Homo sapiens: one gene and its partners. The protein of the gene in region 3 interacts with the protein of the main gene of each other region in a biochemical or structural test. Each region holds a gene or a part of one and is shown on either strand. Other genes may lie near its edges.

Region 1 (3,500 bases), on a different chromosome or scaffold from region 3:
GCTTGAATATTTATCAGGAAAAGAGAGCAAGGGCCACCTATATGCCAGGCCAGCTGCCCCAAAGGCCTTACCTCTTTGAGGTCGTATAGAGGAGAAGAGATTTCTTGTCCTCACTCTTTGCTAGGCTGGTGGCTGAGGTCCCTATAACAAAAGACAGCTTAACAGGAGAAAAGCATACAAATTTATTTGGCTTTTAAAAATTTAATTTACTTATTATTATTTTTACATAGAGATGGGGTATCACCATGTCACCCAGGCTACTCTGGAACTACTGGGCTTGGTAATTCTCCCACCTCGGCCTCCCAAAGTGTTGGAATTACAGGCGTGAGCCACTGCGCCTGGCCCAAATTTATTTAATATAAGTTTTACATGACACAGGGGCCTTCAGAAATGAAGACCCAAAGAAATGGGAAAACGTGTGTATTCTTAAACTTTTTAGTTTTTATTATATTGAATTAAATTAAATTATTTATTTATTTATTTTTTGAGACAGGGTCTCACGCTGTCGCCCAGGCTGGAGTGCAGTGGCATGATCTCGGCTCACTGCAACCTCTGACTCCCAGGCTCAAGTGATCCTCTTGCCTCGGCCTCCCGAGTAGCTGGGATTACAGGCATGCACCACCACACCTGGCTAATTTTTTGCATTTGTAGTACAGATGAGGTTTCACCATGTTGCCCAGGCTGGTTTATTATTTTTTAATCATCTAGCCTAAAATGTCAAAAACTTGTGACTTTTTATGCCAAGTTTGATGAAGAAGTATATAGTTGTGGAAGTATTGCACAAAGAGTGTGTGAGCTAATGGTGATACACTTAGGGGAACCTAGCAAGGCCTGTTTGTTCAGATTCTTCTCTGTGTCCTTGCATCTTCAAAGTTAAGGCTGTTTTTTTTTTCTCCAGGTACAAAGACAGCAACTCTCAAATGAGAATCTTATGACCTATTTCAGGGTGAAAGGTGGGAGAAGGTCAGAGTGGGGTGACTATCCTAGGTTTTATGACCTGCTTCTACTGTTTTCTCAAATGTGGCCAAGGTGCCATATTTGGAGAATAGTGTGTCCTGAATTCCATCAGTAAATACTGTTATATTCACCTTACAAATGGGGAAACTGAGGCTCAGAAAGCTCAGGGATGTGCCCAGGCTCACACAGTGGGCTTGTAGCACATCTGGGATTCCAACCCAGGTCTGAGGCCTTAAAGCCTATTCTCAGCCTCACATTTCCCTGAGATCTGTCCTTTGCTGCTGGGAGGCAGCCAAAGGAGGCAGAATCCTGGGCCTTTCCCACAGAGAACAGGTAAAGGAAGGCGGTCCTTGCAGTCAGGCTGGTCTCTGAAACCTTGCTCCTCATCACCCAGACTCAGGTGGTGTGGAGAAGGCTGACTCTACCCATGAAGGGCAGCCCCTTGAAGGGTGAGTCTCTGACTGACCAGATACCTGGGAAACGAAGTTTGTGGCTGACAGACTTTCAGGAACTTGTCTGACTGTCTTATGAGGAGCTGCAGGCAGGTGGCTGACTGACGGCCTGAACGGACAGCTCTCCTGAAAGACAGTAGCCCGCCGGCTGGCTGGCTTACCAGCAGGTGGACACGATGTGCCTGCATGAGTGATCAGCCAAGTGACCGACTGACAGTCAGACACACAGACCCATTGCGGGCCAGCTCGGGCTGTGGGTCCCTAGCCCCTGGAGCCACCTGGCCTACCTGGGACCCCAAAACTTAGCTGCCCACCTGGGAGAGAGAGGGACTGGGTTTTTTAAACTAGGGCCTGGCTCTCTGCCCCAGGTCCCTTCATTCCCGCAGGCAACCGCCTGCCCAGCCCAGGTTCAGTCCCATGGCCGTCCCATCCTCCTGTCAGGGGTGGCCCCTGACAAAGGCCCCACAGCACAGGGCAGGGTCTCAGTGCCCTTCCACAGGAGGACACGCAGTCCTGGACTGGACCATCCTTCCAAGGGGAGTTCCGCCCTGAGTCAGGGAGGCGAAGGTTTGCTGTCAGCGCGTCAGCAGAGACCCCAGCCCACAGGAAAGGCTCGGAGGGGGTGGGCAGCCTGCCTGACAAGCCCCATTCAGTGACCAGCTGACCCCCAATACATGACTCGTGCTCCTCTCAGAACCCGGAGGAATGTGGCCAGTGCTTCCCTCCCCTGCCCAGAGGCACAGGCTGTGGACTTTGCCCTCCACAAACAGCCATATCTCTAAAGGATAAAGTACTCCCAGGAAGGCTTTGAGCCTTGGCAGAAAAGGCTGGGATTGAAGCTTCAGGGAGAGCCAGAGGTGAGGCTGGAGTGGGAGATCACCTGAGGCAGGTGAGCAGGCTCCATGAGTGGGCAGGTGAGAGGCCAGGGGGCTGGAACTGGGGCTAGACAGGCTGGGGCACAGCAAGGATGCCACCAGTATACCCAGGAAGCTAAGTGGAGGGTCCAGGGTCTGGCCTGGAGGCGGGGGCCTCACATTCTGAGCTGGCCCACAGGCTTCCACCCCTCTCCCCCATCCATTCCTTGGGTTTCCTTCAGAGCTGGGGCTCCAGGTCAAGGACTTCTGCTCCCAGCCTCAGCTCCCGCTCTCTCACCTGGTTGGCTTGGCCCCTTGGTGGACTGGCACTGCTACCTATGAAGTGACTTGGCTAGGTTTGGGTGGGCCAAGACAGAGAAAAGCACTGTGCTTCTTCCCCCTGTCAAACTTGTACAAGGAGCATTGAGTGATGTTGAGTTTAACACTTACCTGGGCTTGAGTCCTGGGACCAATGCTAACCAGCAAAGCTAGTTCCTCTGAGCCTGGGTGTCCTTATCAGAAGCATAGAGATAATAAGACACCAAAGGGACGGAGCTGTGGAGAGGGTTCATGGGCCAGTGCACAGAAAGCCTGTGGCATGGAGCCCAGACTACAGCAGGAAACCCACTGCGGCTGGTGAGAGGAGCTGAGGCTCAGAAATGGTCCCCTCCACCTCCTCTGGGAGCCTTTGCTTTGAACTGCCTTATTTCCTCCTTGCCTTTAAAGTGACTCCCACTGAGTGTCCCATGACACTCCTCTTCCCTAGGCCAATTTCCCGTCTCCTCGTCAGGTGTCAGTTTTGTTTCAACAGTTCCTTGCTTCCTCTGAGTGTTTATGCCCCGCAGAGGGACTCCTCCCTAGCCACACGCACTTCCATTTCCTCAGCCAAATTCCTCAACCTGTTTGTATAGACATTTCTCCAAAGCAAGATATACAAATGGCAGTAGGCACATGAAAAGATGCTCAATATCATTAGTCATTAGAAAAATGCAAACCAAAACCACACTGAGATACCACCTCTACCCTATGAGGATGGCTATAATTGAAAAGGCAGACAATGAAAGTATTAGCAAAGATGTAGAGAAATTGGGACATTGCTGGAGGGAGTGTAAAATGGTGTTGCCACTGTGGAAAATGGTTTGGCAGTTCCTCACATGGTTAAACATAGCATTATTGTATATGAACATATGACCCAGCAATTCCGCTCCTAGGTGTACACCCAAGAGAATTGAAAATG
Region 2 (3,500 bases), on a different chromosome or scaffold from region 3:
TGTATCATCCATGGATTGATTGGTAGGTTGACTGGTAGAGATGGGACTTCTATAGTTATTGGGTGCCTAGAAAGACAAACAGCAGAGAGTGTCAATAATTCACTGCATTTCAACAACTAATGAAGACATTCAAAACATACCTCTCATAAATGCAGGCATGATATGGGACAAGTTTCCATTATAATTAATTTGATAAAACATTCTCATTGTATTGAACTTCTGTTGGAAATCATATTCTTGACTGAGATGCAACAGAAATCTAGTCTAGATTAATACTTGCTGTATTGTGCTATGAATTACCTGTTTCAATGTAGAACTCCCTCTCCCAATGTTAAGCTATTTTGATAAGAACAATTACTATCATTTTTATATGGAAATTCTAACACAGTGTCTGAACTTTAAAAAATAAGCAACTTAACATATAAAAAGTTAACAAAACTGACATCAAGATGATATTGTATAATCATTAATCTTCTCTACCGTAATCAAGTCACTTTGACCACATATGTATGTATGTAACAGAAAATATGCAGGTGTGAAAAAAGAAAGACAAATTAAGAGACAAAAGAAACTAGAGAAAGGTCTTTTGATGAGTAATTTAAAAATTTAGATTGACCTTAGTGTTGTTGGTTTTTTTGAGTCAGAGTCTCGCTCTGTTGCCCAAGCTGGAGTGCAGTGGCGCAATCTAGGCTCACTGCAACCCCCACCTCCCAGGTTCAAGCAATTCTGCCTCAGCCTCACGAGTAGCTGGGATTACAGGCAAGCACCATCACGCCCAGCTAATTTTTGTATTTTTAGTAGAGATGGAGTTTCGCCATGTTGGCCAGGCTGGTCTCAAACTCCTGACCTCAGACGATCCGCCCACCTCAGCCTCCCAAAGTGTTGGGATTACAAGCGTGAGCCACCATGACCAGCCAGATGTTAGTGTTTTTAAGAAGAAAGCAAAATGAAAATTCAAGTGCCATGATTACTTATAGAGGTTATCTTTTAAAAAAGAGAATGAAGTAGTTCTAATGTCTTTTTTTGACAGTCCAACCTATTAACTCTTTAATAATCCTTCAAAATATTATTCTACAAAAACCTGAAAAAGTTGGATACCTAATATAGACCGTTGCAAAGCTCCCTTTCATTCCCCAAATTCACAACAATAAATGTGACTAGACTGGCATGAGTAGACAAAGGCTAAGGATGAAGAAGGGAATCCCAAAATTGTGTATGACAGAGCACCAATTTATTTCTTGCTGAAGTGGCTGATGAAATAAAGCAAGGTTTCTTGATTCTACAGTTGGCATCAAGAAGCAATCCATGTTTTTTGCCAACAAACAAAAAAAATATTTTTTGCAAAAGTAACTACTTAATAAATAAAAAGTTAAACTGATAAATTATGAAGGCATCTGATGAACACATGTTGGATTGTCAGAACCTTTTTAGTACTTGGCTTGTGGCCATGTAGAATTCCACTGCGAATAGTTAAAATGAAAAGAAATTTATATACTTTTGGCTAGGAATTGGGGAATTTTTTGTCTTAGTTTGGGCTGCTGTAACAAAATACTGTAGACTGGGTTGCTTAAACCACAAACACTTATTCCTCACAGTTCTGGAGGCTGGGAAGTCCAAGATTAAGAAAATATTTTCCTAACTTGAGAAAAAAAAAAGAGTCCAGTGAGGGCCTGCGGGCCTGTTTCTTGGTTTGCAGACAACTGTCTTCTCAGTATCCTCACATTGCAAAGAGCAGAAAGAGGAAGCAAGCTCTTCTGTCCTTAAAAAGGCACTGATCCCATTCACGAAGACGCCACCCTCATGATCTAATTACATCCCAAAGTCTCCACCTCCTAATATCATCGCATTAGGCATTAGGATTTCAACATATGAATGTTGGGAAGACATAAATGTTCAATCCATAGCAACTTTTTTTGTGAAATTTCATAAACAGGATGCTATGCATTAAAGGAAGAGATTTGAAGTATAGTGGGGATAACGAGCATGAAAATACATATCCCTCTTATCTGCAAACCCAGAAGGAAGTTTCTAGTCTTTTAGTTAAACACTAAGGGGCAGCAGCAAGGCAGAATAAGGAAGAAACTTTTACAGCTCATCAAACTCCTGCAGCCCATAAGGAAATAAAAAAGTTCTTTGGTTGTATAAGTATACACTAATAACTTACCTCCAAAGATAATAATAATAATGAATATCATTACGTTCTTCTATGTGCTTGCTACGCTTCTGGTTCTTTTATGCAATTTAACCATCACAATAACCTTATGACATAAAAATATTATGTCCTCTCCTGGGTTGGATACTGTCCCCTGCAAATTCATGTCCTCCTCAGAACCTCATAATGTGACCTCATTTGAAAATAGGATCCTTGTAATTAGCTAAGCTCAAACAACGCTGTGCTGGAGAGGGGTGGGCCTTTAAGTCCAAGATAACTGGGGTCTCCATAAGAAAAGAAGGAAGGCAGACACACACACACAGCTGAGAACAGTGATGAGAGGGGCAGAGATTGGAGCGATGTGTCTACCAGCCAAGGATCGACAGCTCCACTAGAAGCTGGATAGAAGCATGGGATGGATTCTCATCCCACGAAGAAACCAGTACTTCTGACACTGTTTCTTGTACTTCAACCCTCCAGAATTATGGAAGAATAGATTTCTGTTGTTTTAAGCCACCCCGTTTTGGTAATTTGTCACAGCAGCCCTAGAAAAGGAACAAAGATTTAGGGAAGGCATAGTGTTGATTGTTATTACGCCAGGGTAATTGCTCCTTTATTTATATTCATATAAAAAACTTAGTTTCAAAGGGTATTAAAAATAGAATAGTTCAGAAAATAACTTTCTCCAAATAGCTGATATTTAAATTACAGGCAACTGCATGGTCAGGTTACTGAAAGGACAATAAAATATAAGATTGCTAACTGCAAAAGAGACTGACTTTGCATCTGTAAATTACAAAAGAAAAAAATGACAGTTCCGTATAAACTTACCTTCTGTGTATCCCAGGACTCTGTAAATAGATCTCTTCTCTCTCTCCTTCTCCTTCTGGAATGCATATTCAATAAAGGATATAAAGATATGATATTCCAGTACTAATATTATTTCGAAGACTCTATACCTCACTGTACCCCTAGCCCACATGCACCTTCTAATATGTTGAAGTAGCTTTATGCACATTTATCCAAAATTCTGTTACCCTACAGTTTTTTTCATTTTCCCTGTCTTCTCCAAATTGCTCCCAGATGGTGAGGGCAACTAAATGGATATCTAACCACTGTGCATTAGTAATTAATCTCAGTGATTTTACTAAAGAATGATTTATAGTGACTTATTACATAAATGACTTATAGCTTTCTCCAAATAACCTCACATTTAAGACATTTTCCACAATTAAAATTTATTTTAAATGCCAGCAGTGTAACTTCTTGGATGACAATATAATGAAGCTTTATAAAATCTTTTGGGTGTTATTCTAAATCACTCGTATGGATTATTTTATTAAATCAC
Region 3 (3,500 bases):
CTGAAGTGAATGACCATTTAGCAAACAAAGTAAATTTTCCAGCAATGTAGTAATGAAAATATATGCTTAGCTTTCAAAAGAAATGTATCTTCTTATTTTTATGGAGAAAAAATTTGATAAAATTATAAGTATTTTCACAAGGATGATCTCATTTTCACAGTAGCTCTGCAAAAGAGGAAATGTAAGAGATATTTTTATTCCCATTTTATAAAAGAAGAAATTGAGAGATGGGGAGATCAAGTGACTCTTCCAATTCTCCGTCTTAAGTAGGCCAACAGGTTAGAGCCAGAGCCAGTCTTCCTGATGATGTCCCTTTCTGTGCTCTTAAACCCAATCTGTCTGAGGACTTGGCATGGCACCGTCAGATGACATATACCAGGTGTCTTATATTTTTATTTCACGACATGTAAATGACATTCATACAGCACAGTCTATTAATATTCTATCCAATAAGTTCTATCTGAACAAGCAAATGTTTGCTGACATCCCCGTCTATAAGAGTTTTGGGCATGACTTATTATCTAGACATCTATATATTTTTTTAAAGTGGGCAGTTGAGTACCATCAAGTTGTTATATAGTTTTATCCTGTGATAACTGACCACTCATCTTTTACATTCAGAAATCTTCTACGTATCTTCATAAAGATATTGTTGCAGTGTTCTTTATCCTTGCCTGATGACTTGAAAAATTGCTGTTAGTGGAAAATATCCATAAATTGTAAAAGGCAGTCTTACTAAGAAACACAAATAGTTCTCACTCTGTTTCTAAATAGCAAGATCACATTAAAACTCAAAAATAGGTAACATTAATCACTACAATTCAAACTACTACTCTCTAGACCTGGCAGGGAAACTTGAGAGCTTTCAACATAACCCTTAGTTCTTTCCCGTGAAATTCTGGCAGAGCAGAGGGAAGGAGAGAGCGTGCTTGGGGACTGGGGAGTCTGTTAACAGTGATTAAAGTTAGGGAGAGCCTTAGAGGAAGTGGCATTTGTTACCTCTCTGACTTTTACTTGGCCATTCAGAAACCCATTGTTTCCACAATCATACTCAAGTCATCCTTGACTGTAACTGTGGTGGGAATATCTGGGTAGAACTGTCCTGATTTTATAGAAGAATATAACAAAGGACAAAGAGTAATTACTGAAATAGCAATCATCTTTTGCATAACAATTTACAGCTTAGAAACCCTTTCACCTGTATGATCTCATTCGTTATTTCCCATGGAACAATAAGTTGCTATTACTATTGTTCATCATTACTTCTAAAAAATCTGAGTCACAGAGGATTGAAGCCAGTTTGGGAAAGTTATACAGCTAATAAGTGATGAAACTAGAACTCAGACCAAAGTCTTTTGACCTCATATCCCATGTGATCTCTACTATACCTTGCAGCCTCCTGAACCTAAGAAGAATGTTGGAGCAAGAATGAAAGTAGACATAAAAAATAGTCAATGAGTTAAAAAAAACTCACTGAATAGGAAATTGAGGAAATGAGGCATACCCAAGAGAAAATCCAAAAGGCCAATAAACATGAAAAGATGCTCACCTTCACTGGCAGTCTGGGAAATGCAAATCAAAACTATGATCACATCCATTAGATTGGTAAAAATTAAGTCTGAGAATACGAAGTACTGTGTCAGATGTAAAGCAATGAAAATTTCAACACACTACCGATCAGAGTGTAAATCAATGTGACCTCTTTTGTCAGCCATTTGCCACTATCTAACAAAGTTGAAGATGCACATGGTCTGTGCCAGCATGGGGTTCATAGCAGAGTTATTTTCAATAGCCACAGATTTGTCATAACTCCGGTGTCCATTAACAAAAGAATGGATGAATGTTATTAAGTAGTAATATAGCCATCACTAAATACTGTATTACAATGAAAACTAATCAACTAGAGGCACAAGTATCAAAATAGATAAATATCACAAACATATTTTAAGAAAAGTTACAGAATATTAAAATATATACCATTTACAAAAGGCTTAAAATATGTAAAATACTTTCCAGGGATTATTATTATTTAGAGATTAGATACTATTTAGAGATATTGTTTTTACGGACACCTAGATATGATATAAATTATAAAGGTATATGTAAATAACAAACCTCAAATAGGGCAATGGTTACCTTGGAAAGGGCTGTAAAGGAGTGCAAGTTGGGGGAGAGGTGCTAGCCAAGGGGGATTCAACTAATATGAGCAATGTTCCAATCATTAAGTTGGATGTTAGTATACAAGTATTTGTTGTTCTTTCAACCTTTTAAATGTAGAAAATATAACATTAAAACTAAAAGAAACAGGAGAGAAAAATAGTCTATCTGAATCAGACACTTCTCTGGGACACTGAGATGAATGGAATCAATTAAAAACGATTCCCAAAGCATCCCCAGCTGCCACAGTCTGAAGAGGAATTATAATAACAGTGAGGGAATGTCCACTCCAATTCAGTTCTGAGCCGTGGACCCACGTTCCAGCCACCACATCAGTACCCTCTCTGATAGACATTATGGAAAAGTGAAGTTCCATCTGACCAATCACATAGGTTGTGACATTTTCTAGAGGCAGACCTAACCTGGATCCCTGAAAATGTCTGCTTGGCCTCTCTGTCAATTTGGGAAGAGGGACTGTTAATTAAGACAATGCTGTTAATTGTTTTATTCATTTTATGTTATACACCTACAAAAGACCAGAAAAGTTGTCAACTCTAAAAGTTCAACTCTGTTTTTCATTTTTAACGTTTGCAAGCTTGCTGGGCAAGGATGTCTCAGAATGAAATCCCTAGCCATTTGTACCTCCCATTCCAGAATTATTCTGATAAACTGATGTCTGTTGAGTTGCTTATTTCAAGATCTGTGAAAACATGTCTCTTCATCCCTAATATACTCCTCAGCATAGTCAGGCACAATCTCAATTTGCAAGCTCAATTTTCAAGTATTATGGTTTGTGAAGATAAAAATACCAATCCATGATAAAATAGTTCTCCAAAAATAAAATTGTTATTCATACATAATTGAAATTTTTAAAAAAACATTTATCTCAAACAGCCATGATTTTCTGCATTTTAAGCAGGAAAAAATATTTCTCTGAATATATTTTATAATGGATAATTTGCATTCAGAGCATTTCTAATCATAAAGTTAGCCTCTAACCAGTAGACCTCTGAAAATCTGTGATAGTTCACTGGGGAGAAAGGACAAGTGCCTTTATTGAAACTGATCCACAGAAATATTAGTTTATCTAAGATCAGAGGATGAACTGTGGCAACTTTCTGTTTGAAACCAAGGGACCCAAATCTCCTCCATCCTATTTTAACAACAATCATATTAATAATAGTCCACATTTATTGAGCACTGTGTGTCATACACTATGCCAAGTACTTTTCCTACATTATGTCATTTCATTCTCACAACTTTACAAATGAGGAACTGTGGCTCAAAGCAGGGAACTTGGTCAATATCATGTATCTGTTAAATAGTAGAGCCAAGGTGTCAAC
Region 4 (3,500 bases), on a different chromosome or scaffold from region 3:
AAGGGCATCCAGATGAATGAGTCCCCCAGCTGGCTTAAGCCCATTAGAGAAAATGTCTTGGGGATAAGTTTCTGGGGCAGCGTGATCCACACCATTAACTTCCTGGCAGGTGTTCAATCCATTGATTTCTGATCGAGAACACAAAGTCCCTTGTGTTAATCATAAAATGTCTAAATAAAGTAACAGAGAAATATAGATCAAGGCAATTAATTTAATGCTCTGCTTCACTGATACTGCAGCATCTTTTGTGGAAAGAGCCACAAATAAACCCATATAATCACCTTCACACAGGAGAAGAGAAGACAAATCACATTATCAGTGTCTGTGCAGAACCTCTGGAGAAGAGCAGAGTCAGGTCCTAACAGTAATAAAACCTGACCAGCAGTTAAGCTCCCTGGAAAGCACTGTGAGCCAGCAGCCAGAGTGCCTCCTATGCTGGGATTATGGGAGTAACCAAGGAACCCAGTGGGTTCCCAAGTGGAGCTGACAGTCCCTGTGCTGGAGACACATTCCCAGGGAAGGGAAACTGCACAGGCCCCTGCCAGCAGTCACCCTCTTGGGATCCATGGGTCTGTTTACCCTACACCAAGTCTTACGAGCTTTTGCTACTAAAAGGAAGAACCCAAGAACCAGATGTCACACTCACCCATTTTGTTGGGGACAACCAGTTTTGTCTTCTTTTCCACACACACAGCAGGCTGGACCCCCACTTTGGGGTCTTCTTTCTGAAAACAAATGGAAGGTGAATGAAATGAGGGAAGGCTGACATCACACAGAAAAAAAGTACTTTTTAAAAGCATCCGATGATATTTTGAGCCTGGACCATCTGCCTGTTCTGTGGTAATTCTTTAAATCTTCAGCTGTGTTTCCCTTATTCTTACGTATTTTTATGTCAGGATTCTCTTTTTTATTCATGGACTACTATGCCTCTCTCTTCATCCCACCTCCCATGACTCTAAGGAAATCTCTTACCCATCCCACCTCTGAAGCCCCTCTTTCTTTTCAGGTACCTAACCCTCCTTAACCTAGCCAGGAACAAAGCAGGAAAACTGCATTTTTTTCTGGCTAATCGTCGCCAAGACCTACAATTTCACTGAGTGTATTCTGCTGTTCTTTTCTACTTAGTACATAAACTATTAAAATGGTCATTTGAATTCCTACCTTCACTTGTGGAGACACATCACTTTTCCTTGTTCTCTTCATGATTTCATCTATTCTCTAAAAACAAAAAACAAAAAACAAAATCAAGTAAGAGGACAATAAGACCAAAAACATAAAAGTAGCTTGGTTTACATGCAATGTCACATTTCTCAGAAAACTTGTAAAAGGCAAAAGTCAGAAGAGGATAACAAGTATAGAAAGGTTTTCCACTAGTTTTGGAGATGTACACCTCCGGCCCCATGGACAAGGTCAAATGCTTGAGAAGTTAACTAGTACGTATCTAGAATCAATATTCGATTTATATCCCATATTTCTCCTTCTTCTCCTTAGGCTCTGTATAAATCAACAAATTACCACCTGCCATTAAAGAGCACCACCCTACAGAAAGTGAGGCTGAGGCTGAGGTGCATCTCAGGAGAGAAGGCCACAGGCTGGTCTCCTGGATCCCAGGCCTACAGCAATACAAAGCCCAGGTTGGGCCTAGGACACCATGAGAATACTCCTTTATAATCAGTCTGCTTAAACCCAATTTTACCCATAAGTATAGTTAGTGTAAATGGACTAAACACTCCAATTAAAAGACAAAGACTGTCAAACAGAATTAAAATAACAATTCCTGGCTATATGCTCTTTACTTATAAAAACACACAGAAGAAGTTTTAAGTAGAAGGGTGAAAAAGATTTGACATACAGACACTAATCATAAAAGGGCTGTCAGGCCAAGCACAGTGGCTCACGTCTATAATCCCAGCACTTTGGAAGGCCGAGGCAGGAGGATCCCTTGAGTCCAGGAGTTCGAGACCAGCCTGGCCAACATGGTGAAATCCCATCTCTACTAAAAATACAAAAATTAGCCAGGTGTGGTGGTGTGCGCCTGTAATCCCAGCTAGTTGGGAGGCTGAGGCAGGAGAATCGCTTGAACCTGGGAGGTGGAGGTTGTGGTGAGCCGAGATCACACCACTGCACTCCAGCATGGGCAATAGAGTGAGACTGTCTCAAAAAAATAAAAGGCAGGGGGCTGTCAAAGTAGACTTTAAGACAAGAAATATCACTAGAGACAAAGGCATATCACGATAAATATATATAAAACAAAACCTGACAGAACTGAAAGGAAAAATGGACAAATCCATAATCACAGATGGAGTTATTCTTTTTTCTATTATTTGGGACAGGGTCTCACTCCTGTTCCCCAGGCTGGACTGCAGTGGCATGATCTCGGCTCACTGCAGGCTTAACTTCCCGAGTTCAGGTCATCTTCCCACCTCAACCTCCTACGTAGCTGGGACTACAGACACATGCCATCACACCCAGCTATTTTTTGTATTTTTAGTAGAGACAGGGTTTCACTGTATTACTCAAGCTGGTCTGGAACTTCTGGGCTCAAGTGATCCTCCCGCCTCTGCCTCCCTAAATGCTGGGATTACAGGTGTGAGCCACCATGCCTCGCTACAGATGGAGTTTTTAACAATCTTTCTCAATCACTGATGGAACGAGATGGCAAAAAACTAATAAAGACATAAAAGATTTGAACAGTGGTATCAATGAACTTGACCTAACTGACAATCCTAGGATCATTCTATCCAATCACTGCAGAAGAGAACTGGATTTACTTCCTGTTCACTTACCCTAGGTCTTCCTGACCCTCAGCCCTTACCTTCTTTCTCTCCAGTCTCTCCTGCTCAATCTGCAGCATAATCTGTTCTCTCTCGAGACGCATCTGTTCAGCTACCTCCCGGGCCTTTGTTTCTGCTGCTTCTTTCTAACAGAAACAGGTAAATCAAGGCAAAGCTTTAATAAGCTAAGAAAACAGTGTGGTAATTCCCTGGCTTTGCACATGTTCCTTCATCTCATCATCTGCCCTAAAGTGGATGCTGCTCCAATATTCAATGTGGATTTATACAAACCACTGCATGACACAGCAAACATGGTTGGACCTCATTCATATACCCCTGGCTCACCATGCAAATCACCTGCAGACAGTTCTCACACATGGCCAAGGCTTTTCTGTGTCTGTGGGCAGGCTTGGGCCATGAAGTGTGCATGTGGCCAGATCAGAGAGTTAATTCCCCAGGGAGTGACCTTCTACTACCGTGAAGGGCAGGATGTGGTAGATAAGTAGTTCAGTTTCCTCATCCCTCAGCTGGACAATTCTAAAGCATGATCCACAGTCTGTCAGAGGTTCCCAATGGGACTGTGTTCCAGTCACCCACAGTAACACATGCATCAATGCACTTACATTGGCTTTTCTCCTATTCCTCTACCAGCTTCCTGGGATTCGCTTGCAAAAAAAACTGCTGGCACTCAAATTCTTAGCCCAGGGTTTGCCTTTGGGGAAACCC
Region 5 (3,163 bases), on a different chromosome or scaffold from region 3:
TTAACAGGGGATTGCAAACATATTATTATCACACCCATTAGGGCTGTTAAACACCAGGACAGAAATGATAGCCTATGAGGACAGCACTGACCCTCATAGACCAAAACTTCGCTGTGGGGATGATGTGTACGTTGGCCTGTCCTGAAGCAGGAGGTGGTCTTAATGGGCTGAAGACGCTAACTTTTTTTTTTTTGAGACGGAGTCTGGCTTTGTCACCCAGGCTGGAATCCAGTGGTGCGATCTCAGCTCACTGCAACCTCCGCCTCCTGGGTTCAAGCGATCCTCCTGCCTCAGCCTTTTGAGTAGCTGGAACTACAGGCACCTGCCACCACGCCCCGCTAATTTTTGTATTTTTAGTAGAGACGGGGTTTCACCATGTTGGCCAGGCTGGTCTCGAAGTTCTGACCTCAGGTGATCTGCCCACCTCAGCCTCCCAAAGTGCTGGGATTATAGGTGTGAGCCACCGCGCCCGGCCAAAGACGCCAACTCTGAGCCTTAGACACACGCACAACTTGGGAATTTAATCTTCACTTTTCCTCCCATAAATATAGAGTGAGGGTGTGATACCAGCCCCAGCCCAGTCTCCTTGGGGTCTGCATCTCTGCTTCCTGGCAGCCTCTTGAGTCGACTTGGGGATTTGACGTCAGTTGCTCAGCTCCATTCCTTCCTTCTGGACTTGGGGAGGTCCGGATATGTCGGGGAGTGAGTCAGTGCAGGGGACTGAGGGGGTGGTTCCCATTCTCCCTCTAGCCCCCTCAACCAATGATCCAAGTTCAAGGAGCTCATCTCTGTTTTTCAGACCATCGAGCTAGTGCCTTGAAGTCTCCGGAACAGCTGTGGGAGCCAAGAATCATTACTCCACACAAAGGGTAGAGAGCAGATGCAATATCTAGTTATTACAGAGCTGGCCTTGAGAGCCAGGAGCTGTGCCAGGCGCAGATACGAGAGGGGCTGTAGGGGCTGTGTCCAGCTGGCGGTTGTGGTGGGGTGCTGGCTGTAGGGTCTCCCTGGGCTCCTCAGAGAGCTCACATTCTGCCAGGTGCTTCAGAGAAAGGGATAAGGAGGGGCAGGGGCTGGATACCAGTGGCTGTGCCTATCCCCAGGAGAGGACAAAATCTGCCACCTGCAGGACAGCTTTTCCTGCTGTCATCAGCTGTCATACATTCTCTCCATGCCTGGGGCCCGCACTTAGCCAGATCCCCAGAAATCTCAGGCATGTCCTGGCTGAGTCACCTAGAGTCTCTGCGTCTTCATTTCTTTGGCTGTAAACAGGAAGCTATTCATAGCTACCTGCCTCTACAGCCACACTCAGCTACAACTGCGTCTGGATCCCCTCTCCTCATGGGCTCTTGTCAAATGGAGAAGGTGCGGGGGGAAGAGGAGCCTAAAGCACCAAACCTGGGCTAGGGGGTCTGAGGGGAGACAGGGGAGAGGCCACTGCCCCTGGGGCAGCAGTTTTACCAGCTCCCCTCCGTGTGCTCCCCCTCACTCCCCAGGGTACGCCCGCAGGGCTGCAGGCATCATCTGCTTACCGCACCCAGGAAGGGGATGTTGCAGACATTGCCCAGGAAGCCGAAGGCGACAGGGAAAAAGCCCCTAGGAGCAGAGGGGAGAAGGGAGGAGTCAGTGATGGCCCAGGAAGAGAGGATAGAGGGCACGAGGCTGAGGTCCACTGAAAGGTTCAAGCTCTGGCTTCCACACACCAGGGACAGGCTTGATTCTGCACTCCTGTGTTCCGAGAGACAGTCGAGTGACATGATTAAGAATGAAGGCCCCAGGGTCACACTCCTTGGGTTCACTTCTTGGCTCTACCACTTACTGGCACCATATACACTTGGGCAAATTCCTTAACTTCTCTGAATCTCAATTTCCAGCCATAAAATGTGGCTAACAATAACAGTATCTACATCATAAGGCCACGTACAAAGAAATGCTCAGGAAGTGCTTATTTTTATTATTGTTACTCTCATGATTATGACTCTTCTGGCCTAAAGCTTTCTTCTCTTCCTGAGATCCACCTGCCCCGGGTGTCCTGGGCCCTGGGCGTCGGGGGCTGTTGGAAGCCATGCTCACCGTTACACTCCCTGGTGCCCTGGCTCCCCCAGGCACACAGCCACCCCTGCCTTTGGCAACCCTGCTCTCATCAAAGATACCCTGCCAAGGCCTGACTGCAGACACATGCGTGACCCCTCACAGGGCTTGGAGGTGCCAAGGCTGGCATGGGAAGGGATCCCGGTGTGTGGCGGATGGGAAGGGAGATTTGAAATATGGATTCTGGCTGAGCCACTTCCTTACCGTGGGCCTCAATTTTCCAAGGTTTCACTGCACTCTGAGGTCCCTGATAGCTGTAATTTGTTTGCCTCCTGTGTTACTGCACAGTGTCTTTGTCAAGGCTGACTTTCAGTTTGAACTATTGAATTTGCTGCTGTCCCACTCCACTTTCTAAGCCCTCCATAAATGCTAACTGTTGTCAGAATTTATTTATGGGTCTTCCCTACTAAATTGTAAATTCCTTAGGAACTTTCTCCTCATTCAGTGCCACATCCTCACACCTGGCCCTGTATTTGGCATGCAGTAGGTGCTTATTATATATTTGACAATTTGAATAAGCGACTGTTTGAAAATGACATATATGTGTATATATATATATATATATATGTTTTTGTTTTTTTTTTTTTGAGAGAGAGAGTCTCGGTCTGTCACCCAGGCTGGAGGCAGTGGTGTGATCTTGTCTCACTGCAACCTTCGCCCCCTGCGTTTAAGCAATTCTTGTGTCTCAGCCTCCCGAGTAGCTGGGATTACAGGCACTTGCCACCAAGCCTGGCTAATTTTTTTTTGTATTTTTAGTAGAAACAGGGTTTCACTATGTTGGCTAGTCTGTTCTCGAACTCCTGACCTCAAGTGATCCGCCTGCCTCGGCCTCCCAAAGTGCTGGGATTATAGGTGTGAGCCACTGCACCCAGCCATAAAATGACATATTTGAATATGGAATAAATAGATGGCAGGTATGCATGAGAAACTTTAAAGCCACACTTCCCAAAGTCTCTGAGGCCTAGGCCATTCAGGCTAATCAGGGGGTTTCAGGGCTGCCTTCAGCAAACGGGGGCTCCTGTGAGAACCTGGGGATTCCTGAGCCCCACACCTTTCCATGATTGCAGAAGCC
Region 6 (3,500 bases), on a different chromosome or scaffold from region 3:
GAACCATTCTGGATTAAGCTGATCCAGGCAGATGTATTAAAGCAGACACTTAGGGTGGGGTATCTGTGAGTGATTATGGACAATACGGAAGAGTAGAGAAGGGTTGGTTCTATAAGTTATAAGGCCAAGTCTAAATCCTGATGCAGACTCTCAACTGCTGCAATTCTGGGATAGCAACTTCACCTCTCAGCCTCAGTTTCTCCTACTCTCAAAGCAGGATAATCCCACCTGCCTCAATAGACTGCTTTTAGGATCACATGCAATAATGTAAATAACAATTGCAAAATGGCTGGCAATTTATAAAGTGCTTTCCTGTGCATTACTGGTGTTATTACCTTGGCGAAATTTTAGCCTACTGACCTCTAGCAGTTTCTATTCTTACACTGTAAATCTTATGGGATGGGCTCCAACACAACCATTGCAGTATGTGTTCTCCCATATGTGGGTGATTATATAAAAAGAAACACATCTTATCTCTCCAAACACTGAGGTTTTTCATCCATTCATCTAAGCACTCAACAAACAATAATTATATTTTAACATCCTGACTGAATGTAGTTATTAGGCATTAAAGATGTGAAGACAGTGAGATGAAGAGCCTCGTCTCTGATTAAAGAATGTTGTTACACGAGAGCTAAGAATCAGCTCAACTTGCACAACCTGCAGTATTAAGAAAGATGACCTTTGTAAAGCCAATTTTACAGTTGTGAAAGAACAAAAAATTTCAAGGTGGTATCTGAACATACTAAAAACATACATAATAGCTTTACGTGTAAAAATGAACTGTTGGGAATGAAGTATTATTCATTAACCCCTATAGTAGTATAATTTTTCTCAATCAATCATAAACTGTGCATTAGTTACAAATAATCTTAGGTAGGTGTTGTAAACATCAGAATACACTTCAAAAAGGAAATTTCAAATATATTAACATCTTTATTAATATTTGAAAAAACAAACAAAAGAAAGCCCAGTTATACAGTTGAAAAGCACAGAGCTTGAAACTTTTCTACTTTGGAAGGTATTTTGTCATCAATACAGGGTGTTAAAGCAATTATCAAACTCATTTTGACATAAGTCAGAGATCATTTAAATTGTTTGTAGGTTTGACATAAAATTCTTGAAAGCAAATCTGGGAAATGATGGCACTAGCAGGACTTTGTAGAATATAAAAAGGGCATTTTCTCAGAAAACAAACTATTTTACGCCTGAATAGCGTTACCTGGCATTGACTGGGGTCATAGGGTCATAGAATTCTTGAACGATTCTATTGCCATACCATGCTGTGGCAACTAAAATAGCCAGACCTATAGAAATTCAAAACAAAAGACTGTTAATCACCATGGAACACTGAGCCTAAATACACAACCTGTTAAACCAAAACATATTTTGCAAGAATTAAATCTCATCAATAGTGTTGACATTTTTATTTTGGTATTAGGGAGATTAGAAGTCCAGATATGATTTATTCCAAGTATCTATTAAAATATAAAAAAATACTAGGTTGGCATTAGACAAAATTTATACTTTTTTATGATATCTTGGCACAAATAATTCTTTTTTGGAAACAATTAGGCAGGTGTATGTTGTACAAAATCTCTTTTAAATATGCTGTTATACATTAGGATACTAAACTACATTTGATAAAACTATTGTCATTATTAGTACAGGTAGAATTACTTGCAAAAGGGGAAGATGAAAACTCTTCTATGTTCTTGATCAAACTCAAAATTTACATTTCTGCAGAGTCAAAAGGAATGCAAGCAGCTAGATAGAGTGAGATCAGGACATGTCTCAGAATGGACCAGAATACCTGCATTACTACTGCCCCATTGGCCAAGGGAATACCTGATATAGGTATAGGTTGGCCTGAGATTTGTTGAGGGTGCCACATCAGATCAATTTATGCAACCCAATCTCAATTTCCCATGGCATTTTATATTCAATGATAGCAGAGAAATCATTTAGTCAAAATCATTCACTTAATCATTTATAAGATGTATAAAATACTTCATTTTTTTATCAAAAAAGTTAAATAACTTTTTTGTAGTAATTCTAAGTATTCATCAATATAGATAGATTAGATGTTTCTATGCTACTGTCTCTCCCCAGCCAAAAACATGGTCCAATGTAATTGCCTCTAGACATGACAGAAAACACTATTGCTTTTGGCTTCTCAAATAGACCATGCGAATGGTCTTGAACTTGTGATGCTTACTCCTAAGAGAAGTCCCTGAAACTGGAATAGGAGTGATGCAGTCACATGTGGGAGTTACAAGAAGGCAAGCGAAGGAAGAATGCAATGCATTTCATCCTCATCGTCTTCCAAGCACTTCATACACTTCATGCCACGATGGCCACAAAGATTACTATTCGCAGCCTTTGATATAAGAGTAAATTATTGGGAATAAGACACTATCCATGCCTTTTCAGAGAGGAGTCAATTTGTATTTGGGTAAACTGAGAGACTGGTCATTTTAAACTAACCACATCTTTAGCAAAGCCACAGATACTCTTCCTCAATTACTGGTTAAACTGACATATTATACTGAAGCAAAAGCCCCTACAAGTCTTCTGTCAAAAAGAAAATAAGAAAATAAAGTCTATTCTAGTTTTTTTCTATTAGTAGATTTGTATCATTAATTATATCTGTTATTTTTTTAAAATAATATACTATAATATACTACATATATAATATATGCATCTAATACCTAATATAGAGAACATATAGTAGTCTATTATTATAGCTGTATAATTTATATGGAGATTATCAACATATATAACACAGTGTATAGATATAAAGATATATATATACACACAGAGAGATTGCATATGTATGTACATATACACACGTAAGTATACATACACTATAATTTTTTAAATAGGCATTATTATAAAGCTTTGAAATAATGCTGTCCATGTTTTCTGACTTTGATTTTCTCAAATGACACATAATGTAACTTATCAATCAACACTTGAATTAAAAAACAGATATTTCTTTTCTTTTCTTTTTTCTTTTTTTTTTAGACAGTCTTCTGTTGCTTAGGCTGGAGTGCAGTGGTGCGATCTCGGCTCCCGAGTTGAGGTGATTCTCATGCCTCAGCCTCTGGAGTATATGGGATTACAGGCGTGCACCACCACACCCAGCTAATTTTTGTGTTTTCAGTAGAGATGGGGTTTCACCATGTTGGCCAGGCTGGTCTTGAACTCACGACCTCAGGTGATCCGCCCTCCTCAGCCTCCAAAAGTGCTGGGATTACAGGCGTGAACCACCACACCTGGCCTAAAAAACACGTATTTATTTTAAATGGAAAATATAATATTATTTTATCAAAAAAATTTAAAGGTATTTCTGTATTTTTTTTTTCCTAACTGCTTTAAACTGACCATTCCAACAGGCCACCTCTACTCCAGTTGGCCTTTCTTTTCATTGATCTACAGGCACATCCTGTTTATTCTCGAATTAGATCTGCCCAGCTGGAATGCTATCCTTATTTTTC
Region 7 (4,143 bases), about 63 Mb from region 3:
AGCCTGGGCTCTCGCGCCTCCCGGGCACCAGCCGAGCCTGCGAGGCCTCGGAGCCGCCGCGGCTAGAGGAGGAGGCGACGAGGGGAAGCCGAGTGACCCAGCCTCCCTCCCCCACCCTCTCCCCATTCATCTCGGCGACCACCGCGCGCCGGGAGCCGGATCGTGGGACGCCGAGGCCAGGACGGGATTCTCTGCACGCTGTCGAGTGAGCCGGCATCTCGGCGCCCGGGTGGGCTGCGAAGAAAATGGTGCAATCTGAGAGCGACTGAGCCCAGCTGGGCAGAGCAGACGGGGTGCCAGAGTGCCAAGGGCTCAGGTGCCTGGAGAAAGGGGCGGATTGTTTGGAGGGGCCGGGACCGGGGTTTTCTTCGGTGCCTGCGGCATTTTCTTTGCACCTGGGCGGCAGGCTCCCGGGGCTCCCGGGTGCCAGATGAAGTGAGGCGGAGGCGTCGCGGGAGAGCCGGGTCCGGAGGCGGTCGGGTGGACACTCCAGGCAGAAGACGGCGCTGGGAAGAGCTGCGTGACGCTCGGGGGCTGGCGGCTGGGCCGGCAGCGCGCCGTGGCGGCGTGACCTGTCCATGGTGTTGAAGGCGCGGTGGGCCGAGCCCCTAGCGCCGCGCGCAGTGAGCGCTGCCTGGTGCACCCTCCGCCGCGCAGCCCGCCCCTCGCGTCCGCCAGCAGCCGCCCAGTCTCCGCAGATCCCAGGCCGGGTCTCGTCCGGTAACGCCGCCCGGGTGAACACGCTGTCGGCCCGAGGGGCCGCCTGAATGGCGATGCCAGAGGCAGGGCACCGGGGAGCTCGCGGGGAAAGGTCGGCCGAGAGCGTGCGTCCGCGGGGAGTGCGCCTCTGAGCGCAGCACGCGGGTCAGAAGGAGCAACCGACCTGCTGGTGACCAGAGAACGGAGATTTTAAGAGGACCCGACCCAAAGAGGAAGAACATTTCTGGGTGCGCGCCCCAGGTCTTTGCTTGCAGACGGGGAGGGGGAGAGGCTCTGAGCCAGAGACCCAGGAGGGACTCCGAGAAGCCGGCCCCAGCACCTGGAGGTTTCTTTCGCCCGCCGGCCGCATCCGGGGCGTTCTACTTCACCCGGTGGTCCAGTGGCGCCTCCTGACAGCACCCCCCGTCCCCCTCAGAGAGACAGGCGAGTTCTGTCCCGTCACCATCCTGCACAAAGAAGCCCCACCGCAGCCGAGGACACTTGGCATTTAGTTTCCGGCCCGAGGGCAGCGGCGCCCGAAGCCGGGCTGGGAGCCGAGGCGGCTGCTTCGGGGCAGTCGCTTCCTGCGGGGCGGGGAGGGGGCGGGAGGCGGCCGCGCTGGGTTCGCCGCCGCCGGAGGCTGCACCTGCCTCAGAGGATGCCCAGGAGCCCGCGGGAGCCTCTCCGGATCAGAACTTTTTAGGCCGCCCGCCCCCATCCCCGCAGTCCCCGGGCCGTGCTCCGGTAGGCGGGGGCCGAGGGGGCGCCGCGGCGCGAGTCCCTCTCCTGCCCCCTCCCCCAGCTCGGCCGCCCGCCGCTTTGTTCCGGGTGCGGCGAGGGAAGGCGAGGCTGCGGCGGATCATGCCCATGGTGTAGCCGCCAAGCGGAGGCATGGCTGCCGGAAGGTTACTGCTCTACACTGGCCTCTCGCTAGCGCTCTGCGCCCTCGGCATGCTGGCCGTGGCCATCTGCTCGGACCACTGGTACGAGACGGACGCCAGGAAGCACAGGGACAGGTGCAAGGCCTTCAACACCCGCCGGGTCGACCCCGGCTTCATTTACAACAATAACAACAACTTGCCGCTCCGGGCGAGCCGCTCGCGCCTGGACCGCTGGGAGGGCAAACTCCTCCGGGCCCGGAATCGCCGGCAGCTGTTCGCCATGAGCCCCGCGGACGAGTGCAGCCGGCAGTACAACTCCACCAACATGGGCCTCTGGAGGAAGTGCCACCGGCAGGGCTTCGACCCCGAGATCGCCGCCCTCATTCGGAAAGGTAAGCGCCGGGCGCAAGGCGTGGCGCTGCGGAGAGCCCGGCGCCTTTAGGCCCCGCAGCCCCTCGCGTCTCCTTCCCAGGCCACAGGCTATCAGGTCTCTGGGTTCCAGGCGGTCCGGTTATCCAGGCCTGGCTGAGCCTCGGGGCCAGGACTTGCCTCCCAATAGCTGTTAATGAAGCTTGGTGCAGGCTTAACTCTCTCCCCTGCCTCTCCTTTCGCGCGTCTCTGTCGGGATTCGAGTGGAACCTCATGGTCCAGGGTTCTTATCCAGGATAATGCTTCATCAGCCTCTGAGAAGAAGGGAATCTGGAACGTTGTTTGTGCTCTTAAAGGAAGCCCTTTAGGAGTCATGTGTCAGGGGTAGACAGGTTCCTAATTTTTGTTGAACTGATTTAATCAAGGAAAATTGGGGGAAACATTTCACAGAGAAGGCCTTATTCATACCAGAAACGTTTGCTGAGCGCTATACTATACCAGATATGGTGTAGGCACTGGTCATATAAACATCAATAAATCACAGCCCCTGTCCTGTAAGCAGCTCCAAGCCAGCTGACCAGCAGCATCATATCACAATTCTTTATGTCTCCTTCTGAAACAGTGGTTGACTGTAGTGACTTCTGTGCATCGAATATCAACAAGGTCTAATAAGTAAAAAAAAAATAGTTCTTTCAGTAACATCAAAGTGGGCATGTCAGAGAAAAAAAATAAGATTTTCAGAAAATGTATATAAAAATTCCCAAAGTGTATGTCAAAACACAAAACAAGCTGCATTTGCTAATGATAAAAATTTATTTGATACTTTAATATGATCACATTACTTAAAAAATTCTGCTTATCGGATGGAATTTGTAAACCTTGTATGATTTATACTTTGGGAACCATCCTGTTGTCAACCCACTGGAATATTGTTTGAATGTGTATTAAAACTGCTCTGAAGAAAGGAATATGTTCTCTTCTATGGTAGCTACATCCTAGGAAGATGTGCAGATTTTATGAGTCTGGTTTTTTTCCCCTTGTGTTTCATTCTCTTTAACTATTAAATGGTGATGTCAAGGTGACAAAGATACTATTATTTGCAAAGTTTTTAAGGCCAAGATATAAAAGCAGTTCTTAGTGTCTCATTATAATGCTGTGAGGTTTGCTGCTGTATTAAAATAATATTTATGAGAACTGATGTTCTTTGATGGATACAAGTGTGCAATTGATCAGAAAAAATTGTTAATTTGCAAAAAAGTCAAGTGTTTAAGAATGACAAGCAGTGGGTCTGGTCTAGGTGGCCAGGTCAGATTTAGGTGAGGTGGCTTCAGAGACAGAATCTATCTGTTTGTTTTATAGCTTCTTTAGAATGACTAGGGATTTTAGCTGATTTTGTTATTGGTGTGTTAATACAACCAATATCCCATTTGCTTCACAATTGGGTTCTTATTGGAACAAGGTGACCCATTTGGAGCACTACCACTTTGTAAAGATGTACAGAATATTAGGGGAGTCCAGAAGAGACCAACTTGGGTTTGGCTGCCAAGGCAGGAAAACAAGAGGGCCTAGAATAGTTTTTGACAATGAGTGACCTTATAACAGTTTTGAGATTCTCAGATTTATAAAGTGTTATTTTATCCATGATTTTCTGCTTTCTTTAAAATTGAAATGAGAGGAAGTTAGCTGAAATGTGAGGGAGAATTCATGTTAATAATGAACAGCAAACACTGGGAGAATTTGTTGAAGGATATTCTTACTTTTCCTTCCTTGAATGCCTTCTAGAATAAGAGAGGTATCCCTTCTTGTGTTGGTTAACCCCACTTAGAGAAAGGGGGATGGAATTCATGGTTTCTGGCGGTTCCATTCAGAGCTTTGATTCCCTGTTGCTCTGCTTGGCAGTCTGACTAGAAAGGTTGACTTGGTCTGTGCACTGGAGGGGTTGGTTGCCATAGTGACATGTTCTTCCGGTGAAGCTGGAAACAGAGACAGGGAAAGGGATAGGGGAAGAATGTACAACATTTTGATTTTGTATCGACTGATTTTTAATTGCAGCAACAGAAAATGGACATGGCACAGCAGGGGTATTGAATACACTGATACCTAGAGTTGGCAGGGCATTGTATTTCACTTGAACTAATGGAAATGGTGTTCCCCATCGCCCAAAATACAGCAATCACTGTCAGCGGCAAGCACC

The links.
Region 1: the proteins of MAGI2 (region 3) and SLCO2B1 interact in a test that uses a peptide from one of them, tested with the Homo sapiens proteins (one large-scale study listed by IntAct).
Region 2: the proteins of MAGI2 (region 3) and CD226 interact in a test that uses a peptide from one of them, tested with the Homo sapiens proteins (one large-scale study listed by IntAct).
Region 4: the proteins of MAGI2 (region 3) and MAP7D2 interact in a test that uses a peptide from one of them, tested with the Homo sapiens proteins (one large-scale study listed by IntAct).
Region 5: the proteins of MAGI2 (region 3) and GOLT1A interact in a test that uses a peptide from one of them, tested with the Homo sapiens proteins (one large-scale study listed by IntAct).
Region 6: the proteins of MAGI2 (region 3) and CLDN1 interact in a test that uses a peptide from one of them, tested with the Homo sapiens proteins (one large-scale study listed by IntAct).
Region 7: the proteins of MAGI2 (region 3) and TMEM178B interact in a test that uses a peptide from one of them, tested with the Homo sapiens proteins (one large-scale study listed by IntAct).

Annotation. Positions count from the first base shown.
Region 1 is NC_000011.10:75,157,607-75,161,106, forward strand, and holds part of SLCO2B1 (solute carrier organic anion transporter family member 2B1), read left to right. Parts: intron 1-2,225; exon of another isoform or gene 2,226-2,323; intron 2,324-3,500. UniProt on the Homo sapiens protein: Mediates the Na(+)-independent transport of steroid sulfate conjugates and other specific organic anions.
Region 2 is NC_000018.10:69,864,374-69,867,873, forward strand, and holds part of CD226 (CD226 antigen isoform a precursor), read right to left. Parts: exon of another isoform or gene 3,374-3,500; intron 3,039-3,373; coding exon 2,984-3,038; intron 67-2,983; coding exon 1-66.
Region 3 is NC_000007.14:78,257,168-78,260,667, reverse strand, and holds part of MAGI2 (membrane-associated guanylate kinase, WW and PDZ domain-containing protein 2), read left to right. Parts: intron 1-3,500. UniProt on the Homo sapiens protein: Seems to act as a scaffold molecule at synaptic junctions by assembling neurotransmitter receptors and cell adhesion proteins. Plays a role in nerve growth factor (NGF)-induced recruitment of RAPGEF2 to late endosomes and neurite outgrowth.
Region 4 is NC_000023.11:20,012,408-20,015,907, forward strand, and holds part of MAP7D2 (MAP7 domain-containing protein 2), read right to left. Parts: intron 2,921-3,500; coding exon 2,816-2,920; intron 1,219-2,815; coding exon 1,162-1,218; intron 726-1,161; coding exon 647-725; intron 129-646; coding exon 1-128. UniProt on the Homo sapiens protein: Microtubule-stabilizing protein that plays a role in the control of cell motility and neurite outgrowth via direct binding to the microtubule. Acts as a critical cofactor for kinesin transport.
Region 5 is NC_000001.11:204,197,663-204,200,825, forward strand, and holds the end of GOLT1A (vesicle transport protein GOT1A), read right to left. Parts: intron 1,597-3,163; coding exon 1,533-1,596; intron 835-1,532; coding exon 796-834; 3' UTR 677-795; coding exon of another isoform or gene 644-676; 3' UTR 501-643; downstream 1-500. UniProt on the Homo sapiens protein: May be involved in fusion of ER-derived transport vesicles with the Golgi complex.
Region 6 is NC_000003.12:190,308,947-190,312,446, forward strand, and holds part of CLDN1 (claudin-1), read right to left. Parts: intron 1,308-3,500; coding exon 1,223-1,307; intron 1-1,222.
Region 7 is NC_000007.14:141,072,721-141,076,863, forward strand, and holds the start of TMEM178B (transmembrane protein 178B precursor), read left to right. Parts: upstream 1-1,343; 5' UTR 1,344-1,590; coding exon 1,591-1,972; intron 1,973-4,143.